Homo sapiens: one gene and its partners. The protein of the gene in region 1 interacts with the protein of each later gene in a pairwise test. Each region holds a gene or a part of one and is shown in the gene's direction. Other genes may lie near its edges.

Region 1 (4,135 bases):
GCATGGGAATGAGGATGCCTCTAAACTGACCAAGACTTACTTCCTCATGCTTTTCTCTGGGGCAGCATCAGGCAAGCAGCCATACCCTGGAACAAGAGTGTGGTCCTCAATGGCTTTGCTGAGTGAACTTCTCCAAGTCATCTCGCCTGGGAAAGAGATTTCTCAAAGACCATTTAAAGCTTTCCAGAGGGCAACAGCGAGACAGTCGCGAGCCAAGGTTACCATAAATGCTTCCACAACCCCTGATTTCATTTCGGAAATAAGGAAAGAAGTAGTCACCACTGCAGGCGTTGCTTACGCCTCATCCAGCAGCCTCCCACCCCCAATCCCTCAACAATTAAGAGACAATAAAAGTAAAGATAATATTACTGTAGGGCCATTGGTACACTGAAACGTCGTTGAATTAAAAAGTCTTTATTTCAGCCTAACATCTTCTCCATCCACCCACACTTGAGCACAGAACATTCCAGGCAGGCAAAGCCACCCTTGCCCTCCTCTCCTTGGCCACGTCCTCAGGGGTGGGCGAGCTTCGGGGGGAGGGGTGGGGGTGAAGACTCCGTGCCAACGCAAAATACTCTGCCAAAAGGCTTCTCAGACATGAGTTTCCCAGGGCAATGCCCACCTTCCGTTCCCCGCCTTCCCGAGTCTCTTCTCCCAGTTTATGCTGGAACCCTGGAATGGTCTGGGGACCAATGAGATGGCAGCGGTTAACGCTTGGATCACGGTGAGGGGGCGATTTCCAGGGGGAGAGGCCAAGAAGCAAGGAAGGGGGTGGGGGGCAGGAGGAGAAAAGTGGGAAGCGCGGACAAAAAGTAGGCGGGGAGGAGAGGAGAGCCCCAGCTGGGGAAAAGCAACGGCAGTCGAGGTAAAAAGAGCGAAAGGTAAAGAAAGAGCAGGTTCGTGGACAGGAGCCGGCGGGCAGGCCGGGGGATCCCTGGTGAGGAAGCGGCGAGGGAGGGGCGTGGGCCGAGCCGGGGGCGCCGCGGGGAGGGTCGCTGTCAGTCAGGCCGAGCGGGGCTCGCTGGCCTGGGGGCGGCCGCAGGGGCGCAGCGCAGCCTGAGGGCGCGGCGGCCCCGGCAGCCTCCGCAGTGGCAGTGGTGGCCGCGCCCCCGTCCCCGGCCGGGCGCCCGCGCTGCGTTCCTTGTCCCCCAGCGCCGGCTTCGGGCCGCGGCCGCCCAGGCTGCCCCCGCCCGCGCGCGCCCGTTGGGGGGCCCGGGGAGCGGCGCCCGCGGCCGGGCCGCATTGTGACGTAGCGGGGCCGCGGCAGCGCCTCCACCGCCCGCCTACTTCGGCTGAGGCTGTTCTGCTCCTGCCGCTGCGGTCCGTCGGTCGGTCAGTCAGTCCCTTCGCGCTCCTGAGCCGCCGGCGCGCCGGGCGCCCCGGGTGAGTCCAGGTCCCAAGCGGACGCCGCGGGGAGGCGGGAGGCGGGCAGCCAGCGGCTCAGCCTTTCCAAGTTTGCACCAGGCGACCCCGGCGGGTGTCGCCCCGTGCTCCCCAAGCCCCGGGACCCCTTTGTGCCGCGAGTCTCGGCTGCTCCGGGCAGCAGAGGCGCCTCTGCAGAAAGGGTTTGAGGGGGAGGTCTCTATAGTAACAGTAACAGTGGTGGCGGCAGCGGCTGCTTTACTGGGGAAAGGGGGAAACAACCCCCGCCTCGGTTTCCAAAGGATTGTTCTTTTCATTTGCCCGCCTCATGTGGTTCTTATTCTTGCTGTCACCCGGGATCTTATCGCAGGCAGGGATGGGCAGTTCCGCGGCTCGGAAAAGCTGAGATAAGGAGGGGCGAAGTAATAGTAATAGCGACAGTACTAACAACGGTAATAATAGCTGTAGAAAAGGGACGTCTGGTGTTGCTGCCGCCCCTCGCTCATCAGCACCAGCTCCCCGACTGCCCTGTCCAGCCCGGGCTCCGCCAGCCTCCCTCTAGTGCTGTTCTGCGTCCCAGGCTGGTCCGCGTGGATTTCAGAGGGGAATGTTTCTCTCTTGGCCTTGTCTCTTGGCGATGACTTTCATCTGCAGGTGGTAAGTGGGGTGAACCCAATTTTAGCTAATTGTCAAAGGCCACATTTTGTTTATTTCATTTTTACGAAGAGAAAAGAGGGAAAATTATGAGCCATTACTGGCAGCCATACAGTTTCCACAGGAAATACTAGCATTCTTTGAGGAACACGCTACTGCTTGCAGCGAAGAAAGTCTTAGGAAACAAAAAGGCAACAGCATTGTTGCTCATTTTCAATGGACGGCTAGGAGGGGGGAAACGTGTTGTTTTTTCCTGTGGGAACGTTGCTTTCCTTGGGAAAGTTAATTAAGGAAGCATTACTGTCGGTGCCCCTTTTCACTTGCTGGAGGCAGGATCGGATTCCTCTTGGCTGTTACTGACAAGTGCCCATCAAAGAGCCCGGAGGACGGGAGAACTGCTGCAGGACAGTCTCGCCACACACCACGTGCCGTGGAGCCTGGCCAGGGTGCAGTTTGCAAAATGAAATAAGGGCTGTCTGGGGAAGTTTATGAGGATTACATGTGTGCACAGTATGTCAGTTCTCCAAGGTGTCACTCTAAACACGTAATTTTCAAGCACTACTTTCGTTGCTGAATCTGTAGGAAGGGAAAAACCTATTTTTCTTTTATGGAGCAGACATCCCAATTGGGAATGGGTTGAAATCTGTATTTCATTTGTACATATTGAAAATTTAAAAGGCAAAGAACAAGGTGTAGGAAAGCAGTATGCTAATGTGTACACATCTGGGAGAGAAAGTCTATTGACTGTTTCTGATGCATCTCAATGTTAAATTACATTCAGCATGGTTAGAGTACAAGGAGACACCTTTAAGCAGTCCTCAAGACTTTTTGGAAGGTGCAATATTTCGGTACTGATCGCGGAAGTCTCTCTGGAAAGGGAGTATTAACTGAGGATTACCCATAACTAAATATGTATGCATTAACAGGTCTGGAATCAGAAAGTAAAAGATAGTGCTTCTCTTAAGGATCTTTTGGACACCTCAGTTAGAAATAAAATATAGCATGGGATTTTGAAAAGAAGGGGTATAATTTTGAATGTAAATTTCATTTTCTCCGTAGCAAGCATTTCATGAAGAAAAGTTACAGATAGTAGATTTGAAATGATGCTGCATTCATGAATTTGACGGTTACCATTTGTTGATATCCAAAAGGAAGTGACTAAAGCAAATGCATTTCTCTGTCTACTCTGTCACAACTTTCCTAATTCCAGACAGTTGTTCTGGTGCAGGTGTACAGTGGAAATGCAAGCCAAGAAACTTTGTGCGTGCTATTGTTTTGGAAGAAATTGTAGCAGTACTTTACTGCTCTTAAGGGAAACCCACACAAACATCTAATACAAACAAATGATCTTTGATATTAGCAGAAAAAGCCTGGAGCTGTTTTTCTTGCCAGATTTAAGGCATTTCTTGTCAAAAGAGGAAATCTCCCAAGGAGCAGGTGCATCATTATAGGAAACACAAGGGAATTTCTCTTTTAAATGCAAAATCTAATTGAATAGCAACAAGAGAATCAGTAACACTCTTAGAATAGAAGCTTTGTTTTTGGCAGTTTGTCAGGTTACAGTTGCAAACCACATAGGAGAAATATGTGTCTTGGGAGAAAAATGATATCCTGGTGAAAATCAAATAGTTGCTTCTGTGAAACTTTTACCCTTATATACTTATTTTCTTGTGCCCATTTGATTTATATGCAGATTCACTTGCAGGAAGTTATTTATGGAAAATGAATCAAAAACTTGTTTGCTAGTATCATATGTACTATGCATGATTTTTCACTTTATAGATTAGGTAACTAGATTTATATTTTATGGTTTGCATCTTAGCGGTTTTTTACGTTTTTGAAATTAATGATCAAAATATGTGTTAAAATAATTTTTAATTGATAAGACTGATAGCTAGGCCCTGGGAAAGTACTAATTGATTCCTAAATAGTTATCGTGCATTTACTTTGTGCTTATTTGTAATACAGCAATTTAAAATCCATAGTCTTTTCGTAAGGAACATTTTCATAGGAAATAGGACCCATGGAAAATTAAATGATACTAAACATCGAAGAACACATTTCATAATTGAGTGCCTAAGATGCTAAATAGTAATTGAAAAGGAATTCTGAGGAGAGA
Region 2 (3,500 bases), on another chromosome or scaffold:
TTCAACCTGTGTATCTAGATTGTCTTCCCCACTCTGTAATTAGGCAAAGACTGGCTGATGATTCTCTGTAGTAATTGAATCAGAGAACAACTAGCAATGAAAAAAGTTTAGGGGATGGGGAGAATAAGAGTTCCTATTCTGAATAGTCAGACTCTTGGACCTCTATTAGGCTGACAGAATGTTAACAATTAGGCTTGTTTTTTTTTTTTTTTGTTTTTGTTTTTTTTTTTTTGAGGCGGAGTTTCACTCTTGTCGCCCAGGCTGGAGTGCAGTGGCGTGATCTCCAATGTGAGCAATGGTTGCTCACTGCAACCTCTGCCTCCTGGGTTCAAGCGATTCTCCTGCCTCAGCCTCCAGAGTAGCTGGGATTACAGGTGCCCACTACCATGCCCAGCTAATTTTTATATTTTTAGTAGAGATGGGGTTTCACCGTGTCGGCCAGGTTGGTCTCGAACTCCTGACCTCAGGTGATCTGCCTGCTTTGGCCTCCCAAAGTGTTGGGATTACAGGTGTGAGCCACTGTCAGTCTAGGCTTACTTATTTTTTTTAGAGACAGGGTCTCACTCTGTTCCTCAGGCTGGAGGATGGTGGTGTGATCATAGCTCACTGTAACCACAAACTCCTGGGCTCAAGCAATCTTCCTGCCTCAGCTTCCTGAGTAGCTAGGACTGCAGGTATGTGCCCATGATGCCTGGCTAATTAAAGAAAAGTTTTTTATAGAGATGAGATCGTGCTATGTTGCCCAGGCTGGTCTCAAACTCCTGGCCTGAAGCAGTCCTCCCAAAGCATTGGGATTACATGCATGAGCCACCAGGCCCAGCCAACAATTAGATTTATATATCCCAGGCTGAGGGTTGGAATTCTTGTTTCTGGAAAAAGTGACCAGTCCAAGAAAAACTTCAGATACTGCCATTTGGGAGCTGTCTTCGTCTGTTTAATGTTGCTATAACAGAATACCTGAGGCTGGGTAATTTATAAAGAAAAAGATTTATTTGGCTCACCAGTTCTGGTGGCAAGATTGGGCAGCTGGTGAGGGCTTCATGGTGCTTCCACTCATGGCAGAAAGCAAAATGGGAGTGGGCATGTGCAAAGAGACATGGCAAGGGAGGAAGCAAGAGTGAATCCAGGAAGCCACACTCTTTAACAACCCTCTCTCCAGGGAACTAATCCATTCCTGATGGAGGAAGGGTATTAAACTATTCATGAAGGATCCACCTGCATGACTCAAACACCTTCCACTAGGCCCTGCCTGCCAACACTGTCACATTGGGGATCAAATTTCAACATGAGTTTGGGGGCAGGGAGACAAACCATATCCAAACCAAAGCAAGAATTTTCTATAGAAATAATGTAGTCCTGGGCCAGGCGCGGTGGCTCACACCTGTAATCCCAGCACTTGGGGAGGCCAAGGCGGGTGGATCATGAGGTCTGGAGTTTGAGACCAGCCTGACCAGCATGGTGAAACCCCGTCTCTACAAACATAAACAAATTAGCTGGGCGTGGTGGCGGGTGCCTGTAATCCCAGCTACTCGGGAGGCTGAGGCAGGAGAATCAGTTGAACCCAGGAGGTGGAGGTTGCAGTGAGCCAAGATCATGCCACTGCACGCCAGCCTGGGCAACAGAGCAAGACTTCGTCTCAAAAAAAAAAAAGAAAAAAAAATATTGTAGTCCTATCACTCATGCACACAGAGGTGACAATTAAGCATCTTGTTGCTTCTCCCTTGTGAGTACACAACCAACTATCACCAGGCTTTTGGAGAAAACTTCTTAACAAGAAAAAGATCAAAAGAAGCAAAAGGACCTCAACAGAAGCAGAAAATTCAACCATTGACAAAACTATGATTAATATTCTTGGTGAGATGAGAGGAGATTTTGCACCTGTGAAACAGTGCTATTAAAAAGACATTTTAGCCAAGAAAAACCTCATGGATATTAAAAAAATGTTGGAAGAAATGAAAAATTCAGTAAAGAGTTAAGAGGTTCATTCTACCAGAAAATAGAATGAAAAGATAAAAAGATAGAATGTAGGTAAGAATAGATAAAATTAGTGGGTCATTCTAGAAGGACCAATATAAACTATAGATAAATAGAACAGAGTAAAAGGAAGAATTAGCAAAGCATAATTAGAGAAAATTTCTCAAACCTCAAAGGGCATGAGTTTTGAGATTGAGAAGACCTACTGGCCTTGCCTCTATAGTGAATGTTTAAAGATCCACGCAAAGGCATATCATCATGACGTTTTAGATCCTACAAACGAAAATAAAAACAAAAAGATGTAAAAGCTTCCAAAGTGGGAGGTGGAGGATTGGTAAGCAGAGAGGTTAAATGCAAAACATCAAAATCAGAAATTGCATTAAACTACCCAGAAATAATTCTGGAAGCTAAGGGATGGTGGAGTGTTGTCTTTGTAATTTTGAGAGAATATAATCTCTGTCCTAGAATTTTCTAATCAAACTATAAATCAAGTGTGTGGGTAAAAGTTACTTCTAGACATGCAGAGTTTCAAAAAGTTACATCTCTTGTACCTTTTCTCAGGAAGCTACTAGAGGGTGTTCACCCCCAAAATGGAATAAAATAAGGACTCCAGCTGTGAAGCAGGGTTGAGACTATCAAGTACAGATTACAGCAGGATGATAGAAAAACGTGTCTTAGGCTGGGTGTGGTGGCTCATGCCTGCAATTTCAGCACTTTGGGAGGCTGAGATGGGCAGATCACGTGAGCCTAGGAGTTTGAGACCACCCTTGGCAACATGGTGAAAAATTAGCCTGGTGCTGTGGCTTGCATCTGTAGTCCCAGCTACTCGGGAGGCTGGGGGCAGGGGAGGCTGAGGTGAGAGAAGCGCTTGAACCCATGAGGTGGAGGTTGCAGTGAGTGGAGATCGCGCCATTGCGCTCCAGCCTGGGTGACAGATCTTGTCTTGAAAAAAGGAAAAACATGTCTTAGAAAAGATGAAATTAATAGAATAACTGACAATTGATATTTGAATTGGGAAGAAATTTAAGTTATCATGGAGAATGTGGGAAATGAATTTAGTGATAGCAAAGGAAATGAAAGTTATTAACTAAAGAATAGGACAGTTGAACAAGTAAGGAGATACGGTTTGCTAATCATTGCTCTGTTGTGACTGATCTACCGGATCATACTAACTTAAATACTGAATATTGACTTAACCAAATATTGATAATGGGAAGATGGTGGAAGAAAAAGTGTAACTAGGATGTGTGATTTTAATATCTAAATTCTCATTCATAGTAGAGGGTTATAGGCTTTTAAAAAATGTTTTTAAAATGAAAATCAAGAGGCCAGGCGCAGTGGCTCACGCCAGTAATCCCAGCACTTTGGGAGGCCGAGGCAGGTGGATCACAAGGTCAAAAGATCGAGACCATCCTGGCCAACATGGTGAAACCCTGTCTCTACTAAAAATACAAAAAAGCTGGGTGTGGTGGCGGGCACCTGTGGTCCCAGCTACTCGGGAGGCTGAGGCAGGGGAGTCGCTTGGA
Region 3 (3,975 bases), on another chromosome or scaffold:
TGGAATGCAGCATGCTGAAACTCACTGTGCAACCCCTGCCTTGTGTGTGTCTGTATACCATGCAGGTTTGCTTGCTAAATTGAGCCTGTAAACCAAAAAGTACCTCAAACAGGTCTCAATTAATTTAGAAAGTTTTTGTTGCCAAGGCTAAGGATGCACCCGTGGTACAGCCTCAGGAGGGAGGACATCCTTGCCAAGCTCAAGGGTGCACCCCTGACCACAAGGGCCCAAGGTGGTCGGGGCACAGCTTGCTTTTATACATTTTAGGGAGATATGAGGCATCAATCAATACATGGGAGATTTACATTGGTTCCATCTGGAAGGGCGGGACAACTTGAATTGGGGGGCTTCCAGGTCATAGGTAGATTTAAACATATTTTGATTGGCAACTGACTGAAGAATTATTATCAGCAGAAAGGAGTGTCTGGGTTATGAAATAGGGGTTGCAGGGAGCAGATGATGCCTTCAGGTAGCGGGATTTAGAGAGAAAATAGATGGTAAATGCTTCCTATCAGACTTAAGGTCTATGTCGATGTTAATGCTGGGGGTTATGATGTGGCATGGCCTGAACGTCTTCCGGGTTAAAGTTTAGAGCACCCTGGCGGACAGGGAACCCCATTCAGATGGTTGCTGGGGGGCCTTCGAATTTTATTTTTGGTTTACAAGCCTTCCCATCAGCTGCGCCAGGGTCAGCAAACCACAGTCCATGGGCCCAATCTGGCCTGCCACCTGCTTTTTGTAAATAAAGTTTTATAGGAACACGCCCACACCTCTGGCAGCTGCTTTGCAAGCACGCAGCAGGGTTGAGTTGTTGCAACATAGACCACAGGGCCTGCCAAGCCTCAATTATCTGTGCTCCGACCCTTTAAGAAACACTTCTCTCACCCCTGAGCTAAGCAGAATAAGAGGGGCTGGACGTGCAGGACTCAGAGTGGGAGCGAGGAGGGCTGGGGTGAGGACAGCTTTGTCACACTCTGTTTTTCTGTCACTCAGCCCTGGGGGCTCCCTCTGCCTGAGGGCTTCGTCCCCTGCTGCCTGGCCGTGACCCGCAGCACAAGCACAGATAAGCCTCAGGGAACAAAAGGCAGGGCTGCCACGGAAGCCCATCCACCAATCCTCACCTCTCACCTCTGTGTCCGCCCTGCTGGGAAATATTCCAGGCTTTGGCCAAGGCCAGTGCAGCCCCAGGTTCCCGAGCGGCAGGTTGGGTGCGGACCATGGCCTCTCACAAGCTGCTGGTGACCCCCCCCAAGGCCCTGCTCAAGCCCCTCTCCATCCCCAACCAGCTCCTGCTGGGGCCTGGTCCTTCCAACCTGCCTCCTCGCATCATGGCAGCCGGGGGGCTGCAGATGATCGGGTCCATGAGCAAGGATATGTACCAGGTAGGAGTGGGGGTCACTCGGGGGGCCTGGGTCTCACCCATGTTCCCACCCACAGATCGTGGACGAGGGAAGGGGGTCACTGCCTCCTCACTTGGGGAGGCGGGGAGCCTGGGTCTCACCCTATACCACCCGCATGCAGATCATGGACGAGATCAAGGAAGGCATCCAGTACGTGTTCCAGACCAGGAACCCACTCACACTGGTCATCTCTGGCTCGGGACACTGTGCCCTGGAGGCCGCCCTGGTCAATGTGCTGGAGCCTGGGGACTCCTTCCTGGTTGGGGCCAATGGCATTTGGGGGCAGCGAGCCGTGGACATCGGGGAGCGCATAGGTAAGGGAGAGGCCCAGGTGGGGATGGCCCTGGATCCATCCTTCAAGGCCTCCCTGGCCTCCCTCTGTTTGAAGCTGGCAGCCCCCGTTCCTGGGTGAGCGCTTACCCACCTTGTGGCCCTGTGCGCACGAACCTCCTGCCAGCCCACTGCCTCCTCCAGGCGGTGTCGGGCACTCATGAGGCCTGACTCTGATAGGGCTGGGAGCAGCACAGGTGCCCCGATCCCCCCAGTCTCCTTGAGCTGTTTCTGGAGCATGTGCAGGACGGAACTACAGGGAAGCCTCTGGTCCCAGCACACACTCCTGAGAGCCCCGGCCGCTGTCCAGGGCCCCAGGCACCAGCTCTGCTTTGTGACAGGGTGGGGTTTCAGAAGCTGAAGCCTCCCCTCAAATCTCAGCAGCCTTCCTTCTGGAATCTTGATGTGATACACAAAATATGGAGGTATGGGCAGAGTATTCGCCTCCGGAGTACACTTTTCTGGGAGAGACACAGGAGCAGGAGTGTGCCCTGGGTTTAATGATTGATTGTGGCATTGAGGGACATCAGCTTGGTGAGCTCCACAATGGCCATGCTGGTTAATACGCGACCGCAACAGCCAAGAGGGTCCCAACCCCAAGTCCACAAACTTTTCAAGGGGACCCAGGGTCGGCAGAGGCCAGGACCCCAAGTGGACATCAGGGCACGCAGGCTCAGATGCCTGTGGTATATGGCTTCCCTTTTCCCCATTCTGTCCCCTTGGCCGCAGGTTCTTCCCCTCCCACAACCTGGCCCTGAACAGCACACAGGATAGGGCAGAGACAGGGAGGGGGTGAGGGCCTGATTCCTGGAGTCCCCAGCTCCAACAGAGGTCAAGGCTGCTGCCTCACTCACCCCTCATCCTTCAGTCTGTCATCCATCACACCTGTGGTGTGCCAGCCCTGGACCAGGTACACTCTTTGTGCCAGCCCTGGGCCAGGTGCAGCCCTGACTCCCGGGAGCTCACTCTCTGCTTGGGGAGGCACTGGTCAGTGTGGCCTGAGAAAGGGCATTTGAGCTGAGCTCTGTCAAGAGTGCCCCAGGAGCGTTGGCTCCAACAGCAGGGGGGTCAAGATGGCCCTGGCTCTACACACAGAGAGGCTCTCATTGGGCAGAGTCCACCCTCCTCTTCAGGCAGGCAGCCAGGGTGCCACGGTGGGTGGGGTCCAGCCCTCACAGGGCCCTGCTCAGCAGGGCCACGGGTGCCCAACACTGGCTTCTACAGTGTGTGCGGGACACTCACGGCCCACTCTGTCCTGCACCCAGGAGCCCGAGTGCACCCGATGACCAAGGACCCTGGAGGCCACTACACACTGCAGGAGGTGGAGGAGGTAGGGGACCCGGGGTGGGGGTCAGGGCCGGGAGGAGGTGGGAGTGGGCATGCTGGCTCAGGGGCTGCCTGGAATTGGCCAGCCAGCAGGGTGGGATCATGGCCGGGAGGCTGGTGGCTGACCCTCAGCCCATCCTAGCATCTGGTGAGCGGCCACAGGGGAGGGTTCCATTACCTGGGAATGGTGGGAAGACTGGTAAGGAGGCTTCTGTCTGGCAGGGAAACTGAGTCAGGAGCCTGGTCCTGTAGGCAGGGCCAGAGAGGCTGGAGGCAGGAGGCCGAGTTGGAGTCTAGGCTGCAGAACATGTCCCTGACACTCAGGATACCCCACCCTGTGGGCTGAAGTCAACCTCAGCCTACCCGGAGTGTGGGGACTCAGTCCATCTAGCAACAGCCCTCACAGGCCAGGCAACAGGCTGGGGGCACCCTCCTCCATCTCTGCACCAAAGTCCTGTTCTTGGAAAAGCCCTTGTCCCGGAGCGGAGATGCCCCAGCCTCCTCCTCCCATGCACACCATCAGGGAGGAGTAGAGGCAGGCCCAGCCCCTGCTACCTGGAGCTGTGCCACCCATGGGGGGTTTGTGGGGGTGTTCTGGCCCCTGCCCCTCTGAGCTCCACCCACAGCCGTCCCTGCTTCCTCAGGGCCTGGCCCAGCACAAGCCAGTGCTGCTGTTCTTAACCCACGGGGAGTCGTCCACCGGCGTGCTGCAGCCCCTTGATGGCTTCGGGGAACTCTGCCACAGGTGAGCCTGGCCCCAGGGCGGTGGACTGGAGCACAGCTCAGAGCCAGGCTATGGGGAGGGGTGGGCACTGGTCCCTCTGGTCCTTCTGCCCCTGGTCCCCACCCCAGCCTCTGTCACATGGTATGGGGTGCAGGCACCTCCCAGGTCCTCTTTGCTCTGGGCTGAGTCTAAAGA
Region 4 (3,500 bases), on another chromosome or scaffold:
CCAATGTATGTACAGTTAGAGGTCAAATAACCTACAGCAGCAGTTCCCTGTCTTCAATGTTTATCAGATTAACTAGCGTCATGTGTAGGTTCCAGCTGCCTGGAGCCCATCTTCAGCAGTTCTGATTTAAGAGGTGGAATCAAGGACCCTGGACATACGACAGGGCATGTGGATACGGATGAAACATTAGAAACAGTAGCCTTAATCGCTCAATATTTGAGCTCCAAGGTCCAAAATACTGAGGTATAAACCACTGCACTTCTTAGTAGCTCTGTGACCGTGAGCAAATATTGTGGTCTTTCTTACTTCAGTGTTTTCATCTCTAACATGGGAGCACATACCTACCTTCCAGGATTGACGTCTGAGTAGTAATTGAGAAAATCAATGTGAAGTACTGAACATAGAGTCTGATTGCTGGGAGTGTTTGAGCAGGATGGTGAAAATGATGATCATGGTGAAGCAGCACCAGATGCAAGTCCTCACTTCTTCCCCCTCCTGAATTGCTTTTCTTTCTCATGCCCACTTGGCATCTGCAACAAACATACAAGCAAAATCCTAGGTGGAATTCCATGCTTCTTGAAAGGCCTCGCCCCTCCACATGCTCATACCATTTTCTTCCTTCTCTCTAAATGCAGATTGAAAATCCTTTCTTCTGGAAGAAAACATACGGAGCATGTGATCATGCTCAAGGCCTGGGGGTTGGGCAGGCAAAGTCTCCGATGCAGACTCTTTGACCTTATCCCTTCCCATAAGGTATAGGAGAGCATTTTGCATACAGAAGACTCCCAATCCAAGAGACAGGCACTTTATTGCTGACCTTAGTGATGCTCATAACCACATTCTCTCTGACCCCTGCTGATAGAGGCTTCAGTCCAGGGAAGGAGTTAAGGTTTGGAGTCAGGAACCAGCATCTCACCACAGTCCGCCTGTTGTTTGGTATGGGCTGCTGGATGTGCCACTGAATCTTCTGAAATCTTAGGTTTTTTAGCTCTAAGTGGGAAATGATGATGATGTTACTTGTTTTGCCAACCTCATAGGTTGGTGGTAAATGTCAATGGTCACGACGCAACATCTGTAAGCTCTAAACTGTTATACTGAACATGAACTGAACTTAATAAAGTCAGTGGGGCAAGTTCTGCCTTTCTGGTTTCCCAATCCTGCTATTGTCATTGTCATTTTCTCAGGACACACAGAGATTGCCTAAGTTGCTTGAAGGTAAGTTTGACTCACAAAGTGAGGAGGAGGTAAGATGTGCGACAGGAATGAAGAAAAAGAAATGAGTCATACTAAAAAAAAAAAAAAAAAGCGAGAAGACATCTTAAATGAGGCTGAACTGAAACAGGCATGCTTTCTTTTACCTCAGATTATGTTATATTTCCTTCTGAAGTGTCTTAAAAGCTACATGTCACATTTTTTAATTGGTTATTCTCACTAAATATAAGCCTTAGTAATTGGCTAACAGCAGTTCATTTACATGATAGCTGGATAACTGTGCTTCTCAAACTTTCATGTTCATACCAGTCACCCAGGGTCTTTGCCAAAATTCAGTAGGTCTCCAATGAAATCTCAGAGTCTGCTTTTCTGCCAAGCTCCCAGGTGACTGCAGTACTGCTAGCTTGGCGACCTCTCTTTGAGTAGCAAGCCACAACAGTTTAATTCAACAAACTTGAGGGAACAGGAGACAAATCAGAATGCTCCAGTCATGATGTCCATAGCTTAATAAAAATGATGAGGATCATTGTCAATATGTTATATGCAAAAGCTTCTAAAACTTACATCTTTGTGACCAAATAATATTTACAATGTATGATTATTTATGAAAGAAAATTGCAGACACCACCTGATTTGCTATTGACTTCACTGAAGTTCCCTTAAGTGTAAAAAGCCCCTGGCCAGATGTTGCACTTGGGCCTCCTTACCAGTGCTTCTGCTGGGGTCTTTCTCGGAGAGGGTGTAAGTGATCCAAATGTTGCCTTCTTCATTTGCTTTAAAAGCTAATGAAAAGTGTTTAGAAAACTTCATTCTTTTTTTTTTATTATTATTATACTTTAAGTTTTAGGGTACATGTGCACAATGTGCAGGTTAGTTGCATATGTATACATGTGCCATGCTGGTGTGCTGCACCCATCAACTCGTCATTTAGCATTAGGTATATCTCCTAATGCCATCCCTCCCCCCTCCCCCCACCCCACAACAGTCCCCAGAGTGTGATGTTCCCCTTCCTGTGTCCATGTGTTCCCATTGTTCAATTCTCACCTATGAGTGAGAACATGTAGTGTTTGGTTTTTTGTCCTTGCGATAGTTTACTGAGAATGATGATTTCCAATTTCATCCATGTCCCTACAAAGGACATGAACTCATCATTTTTTATGGCTGCATAGTATTCCATGGTATATATTTGCCACATTTTCTTAATCCAGTCTATCATTGTTGGACATTTGGATTGGTTCCAAGTCTTTGCTATTGTGAATAGTGCCGCGATAAACATACATGTGCATGTGTCTTTATAGCAGCATGATTTATAGTCCTTTGGGTATATACCCAGTAATGGGATGGCTGGGTCAAATGGTATTTCTAGTTCTAGATCCCTGAGGAATCGCCACACTGACTTCCACAATGGTTGAACTAGTTTACAGTCCCATCAACAGTGTAAAAGTGTTCCTATTTCTCCACATCCTCTCCAGCACCTGTTGTTTCCTGACTTTTTAATGATTGCCATTCTAACTGGTGTGAGATGGTATCTCATTGTGGTTTTGATTTGCATTTCTCTGATGGCCAGTGATGGTGAGCATTTTTTCATGTGTTTTTTGGCTGCATAAATGTCTTCTTTTGAGAAGTGTCTGTTCATGTCCTTCGCCCACTTTTTGATGGGGTTGTTTGTTATTTTCTTGTAAATTTGTTTGAGTTCATTGTAGATTCTGGATATTAGCCCTTTGTCAGATGAGTAGGTTGTGAAAATTTTCTCCCATTTTGTGGGTTGCCTGTTCACTCTGATGGTAGTTTCTTTTGCTGTGCAGAAGCTCTTTAGTTTAATTAGATCCCATTTGTCAATTTTGTCTTTTGTTGCCATTGCTTTTGGTGTTTTAGACATGAAGTCCTTGCCCATGCCTATGTCCTGAATGGTATTGCCTAAGTTTTCTTCTAGGGTTTTTATGGTTTTAGGTCTAGCGTTTAAGTCTTTAATCCGTCTTGAATTAATTTTTGTATGAGGTGTAAGGAAGGGATCCAGTTTCAGCTTTCTACATATGGCTAGCCAGTTTTCCCAGCACCATTTATTAAATAGGGAATCCTTTCCCCATTGCTTGTTTTTCTCAGGTTTGTCAAAGATCAGATAGTTATAGATATGTGGTGTTATTTCTGAGGGCTCTGTTCTGTTCCGTTGATCTATATCTCTGTTTTGGTACCAGTACCATGCTGTTTTGGTTACTGTAGGCTTGTAGTATAGTTTGAAGTCAGGTAGCGTGATGCCTCCAGCTTTGTTCTTTTGGCTTAGAATTGAC

What was found. Proteins that work in one complex are often made in the same cells at the same time.
Region 2: the proteins of SNCAIP (region 1) and NUDT21 interact in a two-hybrid assay, tested with the Homo sapiens proteins (one large-scale study listed by BioGRID and IntAct).
Region 3: the proteins of SNCAIP (region 1) and AGXT interact in a two-hybrid assay, tested with the Homo sapiens proteins (one large-scale study listed by IntAct).
Region 4: the proteins of SNCAIP (region 1) and PTN interact in a two-hybrid assay, tested with the Homo sapiens proteins (one large-scale study listed by BioGRID and IntAct).

The regions. Positions count from the first base shown.
Region 1 is NC_000005.10:122,310,902-122,315,036, forward strand, and holds the start of SNCAIP (synphilin-1), read left to right. Parts: upstream 1-1,335; 5' UTR 1,336-1,383; exon of another isoform or gene 1,384-2,019; intron 2,020-4,135. UniProt on the Homo sapiens protein: Isoform 2 inhibits the ubiquitin ligase activity of SIAH1 and inhibits proteasomal degradation of target proteins. Isoform 2 inhibits autoubiquitination and proteasomal degradation of SIAH1, and thereby increases cellular levels of SIAH.
Region 2 is NC_000016.10:56,441,333-56,444,832, reverse strand, and holds part of NUDT21 (cleavage and polyadenylation specificity factor subunit 5), read left to right. Parts: intron 1-3,500. UniProt on the Homo sapiens protein: Component of the cleavage factor Im (CFIm) complex that functions as an activator of the pre-mRNA 3'-end cleavage and polyadenylation processing required for the maturation of pre-mRNA into functional mRNAs.
Region 3 is NC_000002.12:240,867,649-240,871,623, forward strand, and holds the start of AGXT (alanine--glyoxylate aminotransferase), read left to right. Parts: upstream 1-1,175; 5' UTR 1,176-1,217; coding exon 1,218-1,382; intron 1,383-1,521; coding exon 1,522-1,714; intron 1,715-2,995; coding exon 2,996-3,060; intron 3,061-3,700; coding exon 3,701-3,801; intron 3,802-3,975. UniProt on the Homo sapiens protein: Peroxisomal aminotransferase that catalyzes the transamination of glyoxylate to glycine and contributes to the glyoxylate detoxification.
Region 4 is NC_000007.14:137,333,734-137,337,233, reverse strand, and holds part of PTN (pleiotrophin isoform 1 precursor), read left to right. Parts: intron 1-3,500.